2 linked regions of the Homo sapiens genome follow. The protein of the gene in region 2 purifies or fractionates together with the protein of the main gene of each other region. This does not show direct contact. Each region holds a gene or a part of one and is shown on either strand. Other genes may lie near its edges. The genes, in order: PTPRF and CYYR1.

Region 1 (3,467 bases), on a different chromosome or scaffold from region 2:
CACTGCTCAGAAACACAGTTGGGTCAGGAGTCCTGCTTGCCTCATGCAGTGGGTCTGCCAGGCCTTCAGGCCCACCCACCCCAGCCCTCCAGGGGGCCAGTCCCACCTGCAGTGCACCGTGATAGGCCCATCCTGTCCAAACTGCTCCTTGGTCTTATGCACCTGCCCGATGAAGTCAATGAATCCCTCGCCTGTCTTGGGCACGCCCTGCTCTGGCCAGTCTGTGAACTGGAACTGCCGGATTGTCCTTGACTGCCCATCCTGGGAAAGGTGGGTGGGGTACATGATTAGAATTCGTGCCTTAGGCAGCCACCCCTCTGGACTAGACCAGGGTAGTACCATGATACAGGCATGCATCTGTGTCACTGCACCCGAGGCCACAGGGGGAGATGTGCTCACACCCTAATACCCACCCACCGCCTCAGATTTCTGAAGCTTGAGCTAAGGTACCATGCAGGCAGCCATCCACCCAGCGTGTGGACAGGCAGCGTTATGGACACACTCAATGCACTCACTCACCCGGGCATCCGTGACCTTGAACTCACGCAGGATATACTGGGGCATGTTGTACTCAGCCATCGGGTCAACAACAAAGTACTGGTAGCGAGCAGAGCGCTCTGCTGGCCAGTACTGGTGGCATTTCTCCTGTGGACAGAGGGTCGGGCCCCCATAATCAGGTGAGAAGGAATAGGGGAGGGGTGCCAGGCTTCACAGGATTCTGGGACAGATGCCTCAGGTAGTAATAACGGGCGCCTGAGGCCATGCTGACAAGCAGCTGGGGTGTCAAAGGAGACAGTAACATAGGCGGCAGCTCCCCCAAGGGTGGCTGGTGTTCTCCCAGGTATGACAGGGGCCCTGGGGGAAAGGGTGGGCTCACCCTGCCCATCTCCCGAAGCTTGGTCAGCATGACGATGATGGTGGAATTGTGCTCCCATAGCATGCGCCAGAAGTCCTCGGTGCTCTCTGCCAGAGGCCCCTGTGTAGCTATGTAGGCCTTCTGCTGTCTGGGGTGGACATAAGACTGGACATGCTGGAGGTGCTGCTGCCCCTAGAGTCTCCCCTTAGGCTGCCTAGCCCCTTGGGGCCCTGCTCAGATCACCCCTCCTCCAGGAAGTCCTCACTGCTCTACCCAGCCCTCTCTGGTCTTCTAGGCTGGCCCTACTCTGCTGCCCACCCCCACCAGCCAGGCACAGGCCTAGGCCCCTGTAGGGCATGGTGGGGCAGTGACATGCATGCTGACCTATAACCATCCAGGAAGCTGGCATTGATGTAGTCAGAGCCCTCCACACCACGGATGGGCTGCAGACACACACGGGTCAATTCGTAGGGCATGATGTTCACCAGCCGGTTCTTGAACTTGTTGCAGGGCAGGTTGGCGCTGATGAAGCGGGACGTGTGGGCCTTGGAGCTGGCCAGCAACTATTGAGAGGCAGGGATTGGTCAGGCCAGGCTTCCTGTGGGGGTGGGGGTCATCTGCATGACCCAGTCTAGGCCCTGGAGCCAAGCAGGCCCACCCGAGCCCCACCTTGAACTCGAGCTCCATGGCGGTCACACTCTCCCCTGGAGGCACTTGGCCCAGCTTCTGGATGTGGGCATACAGGTTGCGGGCAGGCACCTCTGTGTGGCCGCACGTGGCAGCCTCCAGCAGCGCCTCATGGATGAACACGTACTGGTCCTCCGTCTGCACCATGTAGTTCCTCTGTGATCGCATGCAGGTCACGTGGCCATAGATGTCCACCGTCTTCTCGTGCTTCATCCGCTCCAACATGGCATCAATCACGATGAAGCAGCCGGTGCGGCCCACGCCCGCGCTGCAGGACACGGGCTCAGCTTGAGGCACAGGCGCCCCCACCTCCCACCCCACCCACCCCTCTGGGTGGCACTGTACCCTCTCACCTGCAGTGCACCACCATGGGCCCTGCGTCTAGGGGGTTGCAGGCCTTGACCCGTCGTAGGAAGGCCAGGATGGGAGTTGGGTACTCAGGAACTCCATGGTCTGGCCAGGCCATGAACTGAAACTGACGCAGCTCGCGCTTCTCACTGGAGCCACTCTGGGGGACAAAGTGGGGACATACTGGCGACTAGGAGCCTACCTGCCATAGACTCAGGACTGAATGACCTGATGCTGAGGCCATACCCGCCACTTCCCCATGGGACTCAGAAGCCACACAGAGTAGCCTGAAGCTCCTAGCACTGTTCCCATAACATGGATCATCACATCACTCACACACCTGAGCCTCCGACCCTCCAACACCCAGGCTCCAGCTTCCCCCCGACCCAGCACACCACACCCAGGCCACTGTCCTTACAGTGTCTGGGTAAGAGATATGCACTGGGGAAAGGCTATACCTTGTGGAGTGCGAAGGTGCGCACAGTGTATGTGGCCAGCTCCACTGTGTCCAACAGGGTCACCTGAATAAGGCCACAGGTCTCGGTGCCACGGGCTGGCCAGTACTGATCACATTTTACCTGCAGGAGGATGAGCAGGGCAGGCTGAAGGAAGCCCACAGGCTCAGACGGGCAGAAGCAGGGTGGAGGCTGGTCAACTCCCTGGCTGTAGCCTTTCTGGCTACAAAGCCCCCCAGCCCTGAGCTCTCAGATCCATTGCCCCCTGTCCTCCACAAGCCACATCAGGTCCTCAAGCTATGTCACCGCCCTGCCCTAGCTAGTGGAATAAGGGTCATAATTGAAAATTATTTATTCAACGCCAGATCGCACCAGGCACATTTTCTGCCAAATTTACCCATAACGTTTATGTGCCATTTTCAAGCTCTGTAAATTTTACGTTCCAGTCAATGCTTTGCAGTCCAAAAACAGATAACAGCAGCTCTTTCCACTAATTAACTTAGGAGATGTGTTAATGCCCCAGGAACACTCCAGCATCTGGGGAACACATGAATACCCCGGGAACACGCCAGCAACTGGGGAACACATTAACATTCTCCGAAAATGACAGCATTTGGTGAAACATATTAACATCTTAAGGAACCCACTAGCATGTGGGGAACATGCTGTATCCCAGAAACACCCAGTATTTGGGGAGCATAATACCCCCAGTAACAATAGCATCTGGGGATCACTTGAGCGACTTCCTCCACAGAAGAAAGCGGCACAGAAGAAGGTGCCCTGTATCACCTTGTGGCTGGGCATTTCCCACCCGCCTCCTGGCAGGGCCCTGCAGCCTCACCCGGGACTTCTCCTCCAGCCGTGTCATCATGACCACAGTGGCCGTGCGCTGTTCCCACACCATCCTCCAGAAATCACCCATGGTCTCGGGCAGGGGGCCCTGCGTGGCGATGTAGGCATTCTGCTTGCGGTAGCCATCGATGTAGTTGGCATTGATGTAGTCACTCCCGGGGACGCCTATGGATAAGAAAGGAGGTGGGAGGGCATTACTACAGGGTCCCCAGCCCAGCCCACCATGCCTCAGTGCACCCCTGAGACTCGTGGACATCCTCTGTAGAATG
Region 2 (3,610 bases):
ACCATGGTGGGCTCTGAATGCAATGTAGAATGTATAACATGTAGCTATCAGAGATTCTTTGAACATGGTAGTGAATATGCTTTGAGAAAACCACTCTCAGCAGTCAACAGAGGCAGAGGTAGATAAAAGAAAAGCTGCAACAATGTAATGGCATATGTGAGGGATGATAAGGGACTCATGACAGTGAGGGAAAAACATTCTAACAGTCCTTGAGCAACCAAGTCTTTAGGTGATGACTGGGTGTGTGGAGAAAGAGAGGAGAAAGTGAAAGAAGGGGTTGAGGTATTAGGTACCAAGTACAGGACTCCTATAATTGGAGGGGGGTGGAACCATTACAGAAATATGAAGAAGACAAAAAAGGAGGACAAGTAGGTTAGGAAATGAAGATGAAACATTTAATTTTCTGAATCTTATATGAAAAATTTTCTTTATTTTGTTACTGTACCATATGTCAGTGTTTTAAGAAAGTTTTTAAATTTTAAATAATTTTATTTTTTTGAATTGACAAATAATAATTGTACATATTCATGGGGTACAGAGTGATGTTTTGATATGCATAATGTATAATAATCAAATCAGGGCAACTGGCATACCCATCATCTCAAACATTTGTCATTTCTTTATGCTGGGAACATTTAGTATCCTCCTTCTACCCATTTGAAACTATATATTATTGTTGACTATAGTCATCCAGTGGTATAGAACACTGGAACTTATTCCTCCTATCTAGCTGTAATTTTATATCCTTTAATAAATTTCTCCCTATCCATCCTTTTTCCTACCCTTCTCAGCCTCTAGTATCCTCTGTTCTACCTTTTAATATACTTTATGATGACTATACATAAAAGTCTATTTTGTAGTGGTTTCAGTTCCTTTCTCTAGTGTTGAAAAAGAAGTACTCCTTGAGCTGAAATTTATCCACGTTTCCAAGAACTGAATCATTTTGCAACATCTGAGCAACTCCCTCAGCAACCAGTCTGATGAACTGCCAGTAGCTGAATCATCATCAGGATCCTGATGCTGCTTGGAAACTGACATGCCTTAATTGCCTACTGTGAATGTAACCCAAATCACAAGACCAGTGTCATAATAATGCAAATAAGTGGGCATGCTCTTAATACTAGAATGGCAGAAAGGAACACACAACATTTCAACAAACTTTTCTAAATGTCTTCTATTAGGTTGATGCAAAAGTAATTGCAGTTTTTGCCATTAAAGTAATTGCAAAAACTGCAATTGCTTTTGCAAACGAACCTTAATTTGTACTCTTTCTAATAAGAATTTGACAGTGTTCTGATAAACAGACATAGACATACATAGGGCTTCCACTGATATGCAGAAAAAAACTATGTTTTTGATATGGTTTGGCTCTGTGTCCCCACCCAAATGTCATGCCATTTTGTAATTCCCAATGTTGGGGGAGGGACTTGGTGGGAGGTGATTGGATCATGGGGGTGGATTTCCCCCTTGCTGTTCTCATGAAGTTTTTACAAGATCTGGTTGTTTCAAAGTGTGTAGCACTTCCCTCTTCTTTCTGTCTTGTGCTGGCCACGTGAAGATGTGCTTGCTTCCCCTTCCCCTTCCGCCATGATTGTAAATTTCCTGAGGACTCGCCAGCCATGCTTCCTGTACATCCAGTGGTACTGTGAGTCAGTTAAACCTCTTTTCTCCATAAATTACCCAGACTCGGGTATGTCTTTATAGCAGTGTGAGAATGGACTAATACAATTTTCTTCTGGATCTTTTTAGTTTGCCTATCTTTACCAAGAGCTTGATGATTTGAACCACTGACTGATTGCCCTGTACTTGGAGGATGTGAGGAAGCAGAATTGAGCCAATAAAGAGAAGAGGAAGAAGGAGCCACAGAACTGAGTGGGATGTCCCCTGAGCACTCCTTGGTGGAGCAAAAGTCTTGCAAGTCTCTAGTGCGCTGGGCAGGCTGAGGGCGTTCAGCCGAGAACACAGCTCTGTAAATACATCAGCGAGGATGCATATATACAGTTTCCCCAGTGCTCCCTCAGACCCTTGGAGGCTGGGCTACTCCAAGCTCTGTTTCCTGCAAAAAAATGGAGTAAGTCCTGTGGAGTCTAAATACACATTCCCTCTGCATTATACCCACGCCTCGACTTCATTATATCTAGGAGCACTGAGACAAAGAGATTTATAACAAACTTCATCCAAGCCAAGAATGAAACACGGCAGCCTCCATGCAGCAGGAAACCCATTGATCTGTTTCTTATAAGCATGTGGTTCTATGCTGTTTTTCTGCCAAAGCTTTTCCCTGCCTCCCACTTGAGGAGCATACACCAGCTGATTCTGCAGATTGACTCTACATCATTCTCTGTCATGAAGCCATGGCATGTGTTTATGCGTCTGTAACAAAGCGTTTATATTCTGCCATCTGCATAAAAACTGCTGAAGGACATTTCAGCAAGAATCCCTATGGTTTATGCAGCTGCATGTTGAACATGAAAATCTAAGATATGACAGTGGTCTTTCATTCATACAACCTTTGAATTTTGGTAAAGTTCTGATGTAATGTTAAAGAGTGGTATTTTGAGGACTACGCATCAAGATATAAACATGGCACATCTTTTATAATATCAGCCACTGGAAGACATTTGAAATAATATTTGTATAATTGTGGGCTGTATTATCTTTCTTTCTTGCACATAATAAAGTTTCACTGGAAGTAAACTTTTCAAGTATCAATTTTAGAATTCCTGATTCATCCTAAGCGGTTTTGTTCTTTTTTTACAGGTGAAATCATACTTAAAAGTTGTATGTATGCAGCTGGAGATACGTGCCTTTGAAATCCTTTCATAACCAATATTCTAATCTCCTATTTAAGTAGGGTAAATAGGCCATTTATCCTCAACATCTGATACAGCTGTCTACAATATTAAAACATTTAGCAATACCATGAAATTCGGAGAAGAAATGTAATGTTTTCTACCCACTCAGGCCAATATTTCTAAAGCTAATGTGGTGGGAAGATGCGTGGTGTTACCCAAACTATTCACAATTATTTCAGAAAATTTGGAAACAGAAGAAAATCATCCATAATTTTGTCACCCCAATTTAACAAATCATATCTTTAAATACTGTCTCTTAGTCATTTGTGCGTAGTTGCATCCTTGCAGTCACAGAGTATGGCCTATACTTTTTCACTTTGTATTACAATGCAAGTCTTTTCATTCTGCTGCATATTCTTCATAAGCTTTATTAATGGCTGCCTTAGCAGTTATTCCATCCACTATTCACTATTTTGAGGTTAATTTTTTATTATAATTAATGTAATGATGAATATCTTCTTACACATAGACTTTTTAATTATTTTTTTTTTAGAATAAAATTCCAGGAATTAATTAGCTGGCTTAAGTAACACATACATTTTATTGCTTAGAATACATTATAAAACTACTTTCAAAAATAATTATTTCATCTTGTAAGGGTATACAAGTACATTATCATTTAATATTTTAGTAAATTAAGTAAAAATTTAGGTCTTTGTTTTACTTGATCATTTCTTTTGATAACAGCTAGGTTTGACACTGTTTTACATCTTGTCCACTGTTTGTTATTCATATTGAGTGAATTTTTTGTTGTT

Evidence for each region.
Region 1: the proteins of CYYR1 (region 2) and PTPRF purify together in Homo sapiens (affinity purification with mass spectrometry; one large-scale study listed by BioGRID and IntAct). This does not show direct contact.

The regions. Positions count from the first base shown.
Region 1 is NC_000001.11:43,617,632-43,621,098, reverse strand, and holds part of PTPRF (receptor-type tyrosine-protein phosphatase F isoform 1 precursor), read right to left. Parts: intron 3,364-3,467; coding exon 3,188-3,363; intron 2,470-3,187; coding exon 2,350-2,469; intron 2,052-2,349; coding exon 1,897-2,051; intron 1,812-1,896; coding exon 1,526-1,811; intron 1,420-1,525; coding exon 1,241-1,419; intron 1,005-1,240; coding exon 878-1,004; intron 646-877; coding exon 520-645; intron 262-519; coding exon 107-261; intron 3-106; coding exon 1-2. UniProt on the Homo sapiens protein: Possible cell adhesion receptor. It possesses an intrinsic protein tyrosine phosphatase activity (PTPase) and dephosphorylates EPHA2 regulating its activity.
Region 2 is NC_000021.9:26,469,002-26,472,611, forward strand, and holds part of CYYR1 (cysteine and tyrosine-rich protein 1 isoform 1 precursor), read right to left. Parts: intron 2,698-3,610; exon of another isoform or gene 1,750-2,697; intron 1-1,749.